Linked DNA regions of Homo sapiens. The protein of the gene in region 1 interacts with the protein of each later gene in a biochemical or structural test. Each region holds a gene or a part of one and is shown in the gene's direction. Other genes may lie near its edges.

Region 1 (7,032 bases):
AAGACTAAATTTTTTGAACTTAAAATCCTTTTAAATAATCCTACGTAGTTTCAAAAGTAAGTTATAGTTCTGTTTTTAAAACTGATACTATCTTTAGAATAAGAGCCAATGTTTCTATACTATTATTGATAAATTTTATTGTATCCTTGTTGCTCTGATATATTTGTAGTCATCAATAACCAGATTTGCATGACTAAAGTTGCTGACTTAGATTATTAATCAGAATATACATTTGAGTTTACATTTTGGAGATCTGCATTTTATACAGGATATTCTTAAAGTAAATATTAATATGTAACTTTGTATGTAGTTGCCAGGTTTTGATCTTAAAAGATACTTAATCTTGGCATTTTATACAATCAGTTTCCAACTTAAGAGGTAAGACTGTATACCTTTGGTCTAAACAAATGTGATGATATACTTTGTAAAATAAGTATATATGAGCAGTTTAAGAATTATGTTTATTCAAGGGAGCCAGTTGAATACATTTTTTTTTTTTTTTTTTTGAGACGGGGTCTCATTCTGTGGCCCAGGCTGGAGTGCAGTGGCATGATCATGGCTCACTGCACCCTCAAACTCCTGTGCTCAAGCGATCCTTTCTCCTCAGCCTCTTGAGTAGCTAGGACTACAGTCATGTGTCACCCACGCCCGGCTAATTTTTAATTTTTTTTTTTGTAGAGATAGGGTCTTACTGTGTTGCCCTAGCTGGTCTCAAACTCCTGGCCTCAAGCAATCCTTCTGCCTTGGCCTCCCAACATGCTGGGATTACAGGTGTGAGCCACTGCACTCAGCCAAATAAATCATTTTTAATGCAAGATTTTAATTTTCAGTTCTTAGTTTTAGATTTTAAAAAATATTATCAGAATTTATCTTAACAAAATTAAAATATCGAAGTCATAGCCATATCATATATTATTGTAAATAAAATAACTCTTTCATTAAATTTTGGTGATTTCCTATTTCTCAAGATTTCTAACTTCCTTTTTCCCCTTCTTAAAAGTCTTTTCCTTTTTTGTTTTTTAGTGAGAAATGAAAGAAGATAGGAGGTTCTGATATTTCTAAGCACTAAACTAATAATTATATTTTTCTTCTAAGTTTATTCTCTTTTACCATCAATATTCTTAAAAAGAAGTTTGTTAAAATTTTGCTAGACATGGGCTATACTTGGGAGTGGGGAAGATCATGAGAACAATTTCTCCTCGTTACTATGATAAAATTACTTATATCAGATGTTTGCTAGTTCTATGAAATACCCCTTAAATATGTCATACAGTAATGATTTATTTTGAAGCTAAGGTCAGAAAAAGTTTGTGGGGGGAGAGGTTAAATTTGATTGATTAGTATCTGCCTTTTGAAGCCAACTTGTTCCAGCATGATTTAATATGCTCAGAGGTATGAAATGGCAAATAAATTTTGTTGGTTGGTTGTTACCCAGATTCTTAAAGTATTTTATCACTTGTCAACAGTTAGCAAATTTTAAAGAAAGATTTCTTTGCTAACATTCATTGTGTTCTAAGTACCAAGGAATATTCCAGAAACTTTACACGTGTTACCTATTCCAATCCTCACAACAACCCTATTAAGTAAATAGTATCCTATTAATATTACCAGTCCCATTTATAGATGATGGGGCTGAGGCACAGATAGGCTAAGCCATTTTTCTAAAGTCACACAGCTAGTAAGTGGCATGCTGTATTTGAACCCAGTCTGTTCCAAATTCCAAGCTCTCAGTCTTTTTTTGTAATCCATCTACTACCAGAACAGCTTGTTCTGTTTTATTATATAATGTACATAGCTGAGATGAGCTCTTTAATTTTTGGAATTCACTCATACTAAATTAAGAAAAATACTTTGAATTAGATAGAAATGTTCTAAAGTAATCCCAGTATCAGGAACTTAAATAACATCAGGCAACTAGGATTTTCATTCAAAAGCACTGATGAGCTCATTTTTGCTCCTCTGGTATCCTGGTGCCTTTACATGTCTTGGCAGCTCTTCTCAAGAGACTCATTCGGTAAAATATCTTGCAATTACTGTGTGATTTTAAGAATGGATTGAAGTAGGTTACCAGATTCCTAAAGTATTAATAATTCATTTTGGAAAATAACCTTCCCTCTTTGGCAGCTGTTTCCTATCTTCTCTTCTAGTCCACATCCTGTAGATTGATGGCTAACGAGTGGCGGAACAAGGAGATACCAGGAAATGAAACTGTAGAGTCCCAGGCTACAGAGATAATAAGATGCTCCACTGGGCCTACCAGGAAAATGCTCTTTTGCTTTTCATGAAAATAGTGTACTTATTCAGCCTAAGTTTTAACCTAACCTAGAGGTATTTTACTAAAGGACTGGTGTATTTACATTATTTCTTGATGTGAGAAGTTTCTTCATAAACTTGTATGTAATAGTAGCAGGAATAAAAAAATAAGGTTAATTGGGAAAATACTCTTCCTTAATATTTATTCATTATAGTTTACAGAGAATAGTGCTTAAAGAATACAACAAAAGGCCGGTTAGGGATCATGCCTGTAATCCCAGCACTTTGGGAGGCCAAGGCGGGCAGATCACTTGAGCTCAGGAGATAGAGACCATCCTGGCCAACATGGTGAAACCCTGTCTCTACTAAAAATACAAAAATTAGTTGGGTGTGGTGGCGTGTGCCTGTAATCCCAGCTACTCGGGAGGCTGAGGCAGGAGAATCGCTTGAACCAGGGAGTCGGAGATTGCAGTGATTCGATATTGCGCCACTGCACTCCAGCTGGGCGACACAGTGAGACTCCATCTCAAAAAAAAAAGAATACAACCAAAATGCTTTAACCCTTCAAAAGTGTTATTTATGACTGTTCTAGTAAGAAAAGCAATTGTAGCTTTATTAAACTTTTCTGATGGGTTTAACTGATCTAGATTATATACAACAACATATTTGGACAGTAATTGAATTTTCAGAGAATTATTTTCTGTTTATTTGATTGCATGATGTTAATACTTCACAGTGCACTGATTGTAAAGCCATTTGGTAGTAGCTTTCAGGCAAAAACGACATGGCTAAACACCAGTCATTTTGTTAGATAACCCCATGTTTGTAGATCAAGTACTACTAGTTTGTTTAACTTGTTTTGGCTTGTGTTGTCAGCATTAATAATCCTCTCCATTCTGATTAACATAATAAATTAGGATACAAATATCACTAGGTTTATGTACTAACACATAAACATATACAACTACTCCCATTTCTTAGTTTAACTAAATTGTCTTCATAACCTTTGTATACTTATTTATTTATTTATTTATTTAGAGTCAGAGTTTCGCTCTTGTTGCCCAGACTGGGGTGCAATGGCGCAATCTCGGCTCACTGCAACCTCTGCCTCCCCGGTTCAAGCGATTCTCCTGCCTCAGCTTCCCGAGTAGCTGGGATTACAGGCATGCGCCACCACGCCCAGCTAATTTTGTATTTTTAGTAGAGACGGGGTTTCTCCTTGTTGGTCAGACTGGTCTCAAACTCCCAACCTCAGGTGATCCGCCGGCCTTGGCCTCCCGAAGTGCTGGGATTACAGGTGTGAGCCACCGCGCCCGGCCGGTATACTCATTTTAAAGAACTCCCAATTTCTGCATCTCAATTTTCACACTAGAGACGGCATATATTCACGTTTTGAAATTTTATTCAAAATGGTCTAATAGTTATTTAGTTGTTCTATATGATATAAATAGAGTTTTTTTAATGTGTAGTTTTTGTGTTTACTACCAATATTAGGATTGGTATTTAAATGGTTCTTTTAAAGTTTTGATGAGGGAATAAACTTTTTTTTTCAAAATTACATTTATTTATTAAAAGCTAAGGCATTAAATTGTAAAAATTTCCTGACTAAGGCTAAATTATATCTAGAATAATAAAATATGACTTTTTTGTAGGAGAAGACAGACTGCTGCTTTGGACCTGTTGGTAATGATGGCCTGAGCTAAACATCTAACTAGAAGGGATACCCTTCCATTTCAAAGAACAGAATGCTAAGGAAGCTGTGGCAAGTATGTGTTTCATTGTTTTGGTATGGTAAAACTCAGATACTGAATGTACTCACTTTAGATCCCATGATACTATATTTGTCTAAAGTTTTTAAAAGCTTTCCTTAAAAAGCAGCAGACATATGCTTAACACTTTTTTTTAATATACTTTCAAATTTTAAGAGCTATAAGTATAGGACTGCTTTAATTTAAAAGGAGACGGCATCATACTTCATAATAAATCTTGTATATTTATAATTGATTTTAAAATTAGTATTTGATAAAATCTGCTGTGTCAGGCACTATACCAAGTGCTGTGATAACAGAGGTAAACAAGACAAAATGTACCTTTGGTATGGGGAAATTGATCTAGAAATTTTGCTATGCTTTTGCCTATATCCAGAAAAATGCTTCAGGATGTACAAGAACAAATTCTGAAACTGTATTTTCAAAACGTAGGCTACTAATAATAGTTAATTATAAGAGTCAGGATATTAATTAAATACTCTTACTTATATTAACCATACCAAAACTTAAATATTTGAATATTGATCCTTTTGTAGTTCTTAAGTGTGATGATTGGGTTTTCATGCTTATGTGTGAAATGTGCCTTTCTCAAACCTTGTTATGACACTGGCACATTACCTGTGTGACGTAAAAAATATATATATATTTGAATGTATTTGTACATAATTGTTTTTATATTTTATCTGATTAATTAATTGGCTTTTATAAGAAGCATTTGTCCTATTGTTATTTTAGATGATTCCAGAAAATACTAGGAAAGATTTGATAAACATTAATGTGGCAGTTTTCATTTTTAAAAAATGGATAACAGAGTTCTTATAAGTTGATATTACCAATACTGATTACTATTATCTTTCAAAGTATTTTGAAAAATCAAATCATTATATCCTCAGTGAAGTGGGTAACAGTTACCTTACCATTATAAATAGGGAAGATAATGACCAGATGAATGGTTTTTCAGTCTTCAAAGGTAATCTCACTTGGAACTGAGAATAGCATTCTTGTGTTAGACTGGCTGTAAAAGACTTAACACACCTTCTTGAGAAAAGTAGGGAAAAATTGTTTTCAGTAGAAAATGACTTTTCGATCACATTCACAAACTCTTCACAAGATAAGAGATTTCATGATACTGCTAGTTTATATATCACTTTCAATGTATTACGTACTTACCTACCTACCTGCCAGCTGTGGGGAGAAAACTAGGATGTTAGTGTCCTAGGGAGAGACCTTTCAAAAAGACATTTCACTCCCGCAAATCTGTGGTCAGAGCTTGCCAGAAAAAAATCTGTCCGATTTGGATTCTTCTTTTAATCTTTAGTGTCATTAAGGTCTGCTTTCTCAGATGGAAAAAAACAGATAGAGAGGATAGGGTTTCTTACCTTTCAGCCTTAATTAGCATTAGCAAAGGTATCCTCTGACATTTGATTATCTTTGACCACAATTTCTTAGATGCTTTCACTTTTATTATTTTTATTCCTGTTTGTATATTCACTTTAATACTTGATTTTCTATTGTCTTGAGACTATTTTTTACAGTTTTCTTGAGACTTATCTCTCAGGTCATGATTGTAGGTTACCAGCAATCTTTAAAAACATTTGCTGTGGATGTAAATTTGTGTTGTCAAATTCCTAATTTAATTTTTTAAGAACTTGATGTTTCTAAATGTTTTAACATTTTATTTTTATTTTTACATTTTAACTTTGAAAATACCTTAATTGTATAAAATCACCTTTATTTTTTTTAACACGGTGGATACCTTTTGTTTTAATATGACCTAATTCTTTGTTTGTACTGTTTAGGCATTCCGTGATTTTTGTGGATTTGTAACTTCTAGTTGAATACAAACGTGTTAAAGTATTTTCAGCTGGCTAAACAGAACTCTTGACTCAGAGAGAAGTGAAACTAAATAGAATACAGAGTCCCAAACATTCTCGGTATATATACAAATGCAGATTCCAAGGGATTCTCAGTGTGTATATTTTTGCTACCTAAGAACAGTTTTATTTTTGATGCTACATCAAAATTAACATGATCCCTAAAAACTATAGTATCTTCTAAATGCTCTTTTTTTTTTTTTTTTGAGACAGAGTTGTGCTCTTATCATCCAGGCTGGAGTGCAATGGCGCAATCTCGGCTTACTGCAACCTTCTTCTCCCAGGTTCAAGCGATTCTCCTGCCTCAACCTCCCGAGTAGCTGGAATTATAAGTGCACGCCACGACGCCGGGCTAATTTTTGTATTTTTAGTAGAGACAGGGTTTCACCATGTTGGCCAGGCTGGTCTCAAACTCCTGACCTCAGGTGATCCACCCGCCTCGGCCTCCCAAAGTGCTGGGATTACATGCGTGAGCCACCTCACTCAGCCCTAAATGCTCTTATTTGACCCAGAATTGTTGTAAAAAACAAAGTTTGTGGCCAGGCACAGTGGGTCATGCCTGTAATCCCAGCACTTTGGGAGGCCGAGGCGGGTGGATTATGATGTCAGGAGTTCAAGACCAGCCTGGACAAGATGGTGAAACCCCGTCTCTACTAAAAAAAATACAAAAATTAGCCAGGCGTGGTGGCGGGCGCCTGTAATCCCAACTACTTGGGAGGCTGAGGCAGAGAATTGCTTGAACCTGGGAGGCGGCGGTTGCAGTGAGCCGAGATTGCCCCAGTGCACTCCAGCCTGGGCAACAGAGTGGGACTCCGTCTCAAGAAAAAAAAGTTTGTTTTTATTCATGTAAAATCTTACCAAATAGCATGCTTTTGTGGCTAACCAGGCCAACATATTGTTATCTGTTAATCATTTAATTTGAAGTCCAAACAGCCAGAAAAACCAGAAGCTTGCAAATTCAGTGCAGTTGTGGCTCTGTTTAATTATAAAATATTTTAGACTTTTTTTTAGTAGTGGGTAAGCATAGAATTTGAAACAATCCACTAACTTCTTATAGTGTATTACATTGAGGACTTATTTTTAATCTTTTTTAAAATGTAGTAGAACACTGTTAAAGTATAGTTTTCTCATAAAAC
Region 2 (5,962 bases), on another chromosome or scaffold:
GCCCTGCTAAGTACTCAGTATTTAAATGATGATCAAAAAACAGTGACAAAAATACAGCATGACATGGTTTCTCTGGGTCTTTTCCTTAGACACCTGAATCTGAATACTCTTAACCCTTAAGTATAGAGAACAACACAAGGTTCTTAGGAAAGAGATACACTAACAGCCCTGCAGTGTTTCACCATGGAGTGCAGGCCAGACTTTAAATTATTTTAAGAATAAGGTTTATTGTCTCTTCTTTCCTAATGGGGCTACACTTTAAGCCATGTATGCAGACTTAAGATGTATTACAAGCCTTTGATTTACTTGGTAAAGTTATGTGTATTCTCTTGGGGGGATAAGTAGTGAGAGCCATGAGTTCCTGTTGCTTTTGCAAAGGACTTTAATCATCATGTCATCTTTGTCTCTAGGATCCAAACCAAGCCGATGAAGAAGCAATGACACAGATCATCCGAGTGTCCTAACCCCACGCCATGTGATGGAGCTGATCAAGGTCATGTTTCTCACTGTTCCAGGAAATTGATCAACTCTTCCAATGGGACATTGATGATCACATTCTGCCCTTTACTACAGGACAGAAACCACTTAGTTTTTAATAAGTGGCTCAGTATTACAATTGCAGCGATGCCTGGCAAATTGAAGTTGCAAGCCTTTGTCTTACTCTTTCAGTCAGGACCTATTTCAGACTGTTGATGACATTGACATTTCATGGATTCGGATGATGCAAGGAGACACATGCCACCCCAGCAGTACACAAAGCACTTACCTTGACTGGTGAAGTCAGCCAGCCATCTCAGCAGGGAAGAACAACCTTCTCAACCAAAACTGCAATCAGGAAAGCAGCAGCCCACTCCTTCCCATGGAATCTAGACAGCATTTATCCCTCTGGTGGGGGAATCTCACACTGACTAACTGAATGGACGCTTTGTATTCAGAGATGGCTTCCAGGCAAGGAAGTTCTATCTTGTGATACGGAAACAATAAATTCCTGAGATACATTCTTCCAATCTGTGGTAATAATAAGAATTCCTCTCTGCCCAGATGGTAGGTTGATATTTCTGGACTCTAGCCAAGAAAAAGCTAATTCTGGGGATAGAATGATAAAAGACTCAAGCACTAAAAATATACATTGCCGAATCTCTTTTTCTAGCTTTGAAAAGTTGTGGCCTGCTTGTCCCTCTGTTGACTGGTCATCTGGACCATCGTACTTGCTGTGGCTACTTCTAAGACAATGTAGAGGGTTATTAAACCTTGAAACTGCCTTTCCTAAGTAGAGAACAAGACTATTCAACAACTTCTTTGCTGAAGCACTGAGGAGATTTGTAATACTCCTAAAGGAAGGGCCAAACTAGAGATTTTCAATCATAGACTTTGTGACAGCATTTGGGGAACTAAAAGATTCATGTGTTTCAGCCTAGTGGGAGAGAGTGGGGGAGAGGAAGAGAGAGAGAGAGCATGTATACCCGTATGTTATCATAGAGCACGATTCTCCAGTGGATGGATACCTGGAATGGATCATTAAGATGAAGAGAGTAATTCACATTTACTCTAGAACCTTTAACAAGCACTGAAAGGAAGAAGCCTGAGATTTGATCCTTGACAATTTCTGGAAAGCACTGGTCAGTCACACTGTCCTGGACAGAGTCCAAGTTACCCACTAAAGCTTGAGGTGGATGTTGGCTTCACTCCTGCAGCACAATGCTGGCCCTAGAAAGCGAGCATTTTCATTCTTCCCATGGCAGCTGATTCTTTGGTGCCAGTTTTCATGTTTTCTCCATAGGCCTTGTGCAGAAAGGTTTTCTCATTGCATCCATACTGTGAGAATAAACTGCAGACTGAAAGAAACATGCCTGCAGGGTCAGGAACTGGGCCACTGTTCCCAGAACGGGTTGTGCCTCAGAAATCTATTTCTCTTTTAGATGTTGAACCCTGAGAGAACTAAGATGATATTTCAGAAGAGTTGGCTGCCTTCTCTGGAAACAAGGAAAACCCAATAATTCCGAGGAACATTGGGGGTTAAATACCAAGAATAAAAATTGGTTCTTCTTTGACTTCAGCTTAACTGTATTAAGACAGAAATTAAGCCCTCTAAAAACACCACAAAGAGAGATGATTGTAATGATAGAAATAGAGGTACAGAGCTATGCAAAGGAAACAGGAAGTGAAATATTCCTAGTCCCAGGGATCTGGTAATCGCTCCTGGCTTCCAGATGTCAAAGGACTGATCCTTTGGTAAGCTCACTAGAAACTTCTAGCTCTACAAGAGTTTGGGATATTAATGTTATTCAGTAAGTCCCAAGTTTTTCAGAGAATAGATTACTAACAATGAGGAATTTATATTCCTTGGTTAATTTAGGAGTCTAAGATGCAGAGTTCAGAAAGAAATTACTCAGACCTAACTTTGAGTGCTTAAGCTGCCAACAGTTAGAAGATGCTATTTATTTGTGTCTGTAAGTTTGTACATAGTAATGCCAGCCTTGTTGCTGAATTTTTTATTTGGGGGGAGATGACTTTGAATTTTGTTTGAAATGCTTCAGTTGTCATTTTGTCATTGCATTTCAAATAGCTCATGACCCTTTTCTTGTGGTCACTTTGGCACACCATAGTAGCCCACAAAGTGGGGGCAGGGTATTGACATTTGGATTTTTTCTTTGATACTAGTTCTTTTATTCATTTTTATTTGTGACTGTAGTGATAACTTTACAGATGGAGAAAGAGTGAATGGATGAATGAATAATTGGTTTAATGCCTAGTTATGCAACTTGAGTGCTTTTTTTTTTTTTTGCAGGATAATTTTAAGTGTATATATTTTAACTGCACTGGTACATTGAACATGTCAGTGTCGATGCCACTGGACCAACAGAGCATTTTGTGGCTATAGGGTGCCTGATAATAATGTCTTGATTTTTCTTTGGGATTCAACTATATCGAAGGTTTTTCCCCCAGCAGTATGGGGGCGTACAGGTGATCGATCATTAATGTCATTGCAATTGTTATTTTTTAAAATAAATTTATAAAAATAACCGAAAAGTAATGTGACTTTTGAGGAATCTGCAACTCCTGGGTTCTAGTTTGTGTTTCCAGTGTTGAAATTTTGATCTCCCCCGACAAGACTTGTCTGCATGGACGGTGTCTCTGTAAACAGTATCAAACTTGTAATGTCTGAGCCTCTTAGCTTTATCTCCCCTTAATTTCTTCCCTTTTGGCCCTTCCACCCTGTTGAGGAGATTTTTTCTGTCACCTGCAGGCTGATCATACATTTGATGCTACTACTGAAAGTGTTTATCAAAATGTGATGAAGTAATTCCATGAGGAAAATTAGCCGTTATCACAAAAACAGCCTTAAGTATTGTAGAATTTCAGGTAGTGAAGATGTACTATTTACGTTTTGTTAGATTTTGTTTTGGCAGAAGACCAAAACAAAAGTACTTTTCTGATTGTTAAAAATCCACAGCATGCTCACCTTGTTACTGTTTTACCTTACGGTCGCTGGGAATCTAAGCAACAAAGACTAGAAGCCTCCGATATGCCATTATCAACACACAAGAGACAAACAGCCCGAGGAAGCACTCAATGATGAGAGCAGTAGACCTGCCCTGGCAGATGAGAGAGGAGAAACTCTCCACAATGAAGGAAAAGCACTGACAGTATTTGATAGCTTTAGTCAAACTGTGCTTGAGTTTGGCTTAGATTTATGCCAGTGGAACCTGTCCTTACCAAATTCAGAGATGACCCAAGATTCTACTCTGTGGTATGAGGGAAAGACCTCTCGATATTTATCTCACACCAACGGCTTTATCGTAGGAGCGTCTTCGCCTCCCCCGTTTCCAGTAGAAAAGACAGCTTTGCTCCTTTGAAAGCGCAGACCGCCGCACCTCCAGCCCCTTCTCCCCGGGGAAGTAGGCCCCGCTAAGAATGTGGGAAGGTGGTGGGGCGGCGACTGAAGTCGCTTCCGATTGGCGTTGTCCCAAGGAAGCCTGCGCGGATTGATCGGCGGCAGGCCTCCAATAGAGCCTGCTAGGCGGATTGGCTGCTACGCGGCTGGGCCCTGTTTCCGGTACCTAGGCGGGCAGCCATGGTGACCGGCGAGCGGCATGCGACGCCGCCTCTGTGGCCTGTGGAGGCCCGCTTGGCGGCGCTGCTTCCCGACCTACTGGTCTTTCGGAAGCCTCGGGGATGGGAACCCGAGCTCGCCACGGCCCAGGGCGTCCTCCTAGGCGTCCATGTGACGGGTGAGGGCGACGGCCGGCACTTGCACTTAAGTCTCCTGGCCTGCGGGAGAGGCGGCCGTTGGGTCTAAGCCCCTGGAGGCCTCGACGGTTACAGGCCTAGCCTCCCGCGAGCTAAGGCACAGTTTAACTTCGTGCTGCGGCTTCCTTAGGAAACTTTGAGTATCTTCGTTTTAGCGTGGGAGGACATCTTTTGGGATGAACCGGCTCAGTCCTTGAGCTCACCCCAAAGATGATGAAATTGAAACTCAGAGGAAAGGATTTTTACAGGACCACGCCCCGGGCTTTGAACCCGTTTTTCCCAACCCCGAGCATTTTCTATTAAGCGTTCTGTTTCAATTATTTTATTCGTTCAGTTAATTCGTTCTTGGCGTCATAAGTATATGCCCGCCGTTGTTCTGGCCGTAGCTATCTAGCAGCCACTCCGCGAGTCGTTCATTTAACAAATACTTACTCTGTGTCAGGGATATGAAGATGGGTAATACCAGGTGCCTGTCCTCACTGTGTGAGTGGTTCTCTAGCCAGACATGAGGAGGGATCCTATTGTTTCCCATAGCTAGGCAGCCTAAGAGAGTAGGGGAAAGAGCTGGCTCCAGATGAAAAGGGCACCATCTCCAGCTCTTGGAAGCAGAGAGGGTGGTCCTTTGGATTCCCAGTGGCAGCAGCAACCAACCTGGCCCTTAGTAGTTTCTAAGTTACACCATGTTAATGGATAAAGGAATTACTCAGCTTGAAGGGATCTGTTTCCTTTACACTGGCCTGATGTGTGGGGAGAAAGGGGCCAAAAAGTTTAGGATTTGGAGTTAACATCGTAATTTCTGCTTTGTTGGTCAGGGTTTACAGCATTAATGGACAGGTTCACCCTGACCTACAAGTCGGAACGTGACATGGACAAACTGGCCCATATCTTCAGTTATTACATTAGTGACATCGTGGAGCGTGAGTGATCATTGTAGGGTAACAAGGTGTGGTGCTGGGCTCCTGGGGGTTTATAAAAGAAGGGGGCCAGAAGTACTTTAAAACAGGTACCAAAGGGTCATTCCTTTAGCATCATTCATCTTTGGTTTCTTCAAGTTGCCACTGAAAAGCTAGACCTTTGCCTATTATCTGCTAATCTACCCAGTCTCACATTCTATTGACTCATTGTTCAAAGGGGGGGCAGGAGGAGCTAATTTCCTTTGCACATTTGTATTTTATTTCAAAATAAAGTATTCTCTTCTAACAATAACGTATCTCAAGTGTGTATTCAGACAAAATTTATAAAACATCTTTTTATTATTATATTTTGATCCTGTGAGGAAGGAATAGGTGTTTTCTTATTTTCTGCCATGTATTAAGCTTTTAGATATTTGCCAGATATCCAGTATCTGGAAAAAACTCATTTATGTAGTACCCATGTTTTGAGTACCTACCCTGTGACATGGACTGTAATAGGTGCAGGCAGGGCAAGAACCCACTCTTGAACTTTTTAGTTAGGCCTACCCAACAGAAATTACTCTGACCTTATACCTTTTAGTACTTACGTAACATTCTCATCCTTTACTGACAGTGCCCTGTATGCTTCCGTCCATCATTCTGAGATTCACCAGAATAATTACTTTGAGGCATCTCCGTTAAGAATTTGATTATTTGACTTACCTCTTATCCTTAAGGAACACATGGAAGGTCGTTTGCTTTTTCTTATAGGTTTGGATGAAGGGGAAGATAAACATTCTATATCGTGTATGTACTCT

The links. Proteins that work in one complex are often made in the same cells at the same time.
Region 2: the proteins of ZHX1 (region 1) and NFYA form a complex in vitro, tested with the Homo sapiens proteins (2 studies listed by BioGRID).

What each region holds. Positions count from the first base shown.
Region 1 is NC_000008.11:123,264,260-123,271,291, reverse strand, and holds part of ZHX1 (zinc fingers and homeoboxes protein 1), read left to right. Parts: intron 1-3,905; 5' UTR 3,906-3,998; coding exon of another isoform or gene 3,999-4,019; intron 4,020-4,546; exon of another isoform or gene 4,547-4,650; intron 4,651-7,032. Other genes in the region: ZHX1-C8orf76 (zinc fingers and homeoboxes protein 1), read left to right, coding at 3,999-4,019. UniProt on the Homo sapiens protein: Acts as a transcriptional repressor. Increases DNMT3B-mediated repressive transcriptional activity when DNMT3B is tethered to DNA. May link molecule between DNMT3B and other co-repressor proteins.
Region 2 is NC_000006.12:41,096,947-41,102,908, forward strand, and holds the end of NFYA (nuclear transcription factor Y subunit alpha), read left to right. Parts: intron 1-410; coding exon 411-464; 3' UTR 465-5,457; downstream 5,458-5,962. UniProt on the Homo sapiens protein: Component of the sequence-specific heterotrimeric transcription factor (NF-Y) which specifically recognizes a 5'-CCAAT-3' box motif found in the promoters of its target genes.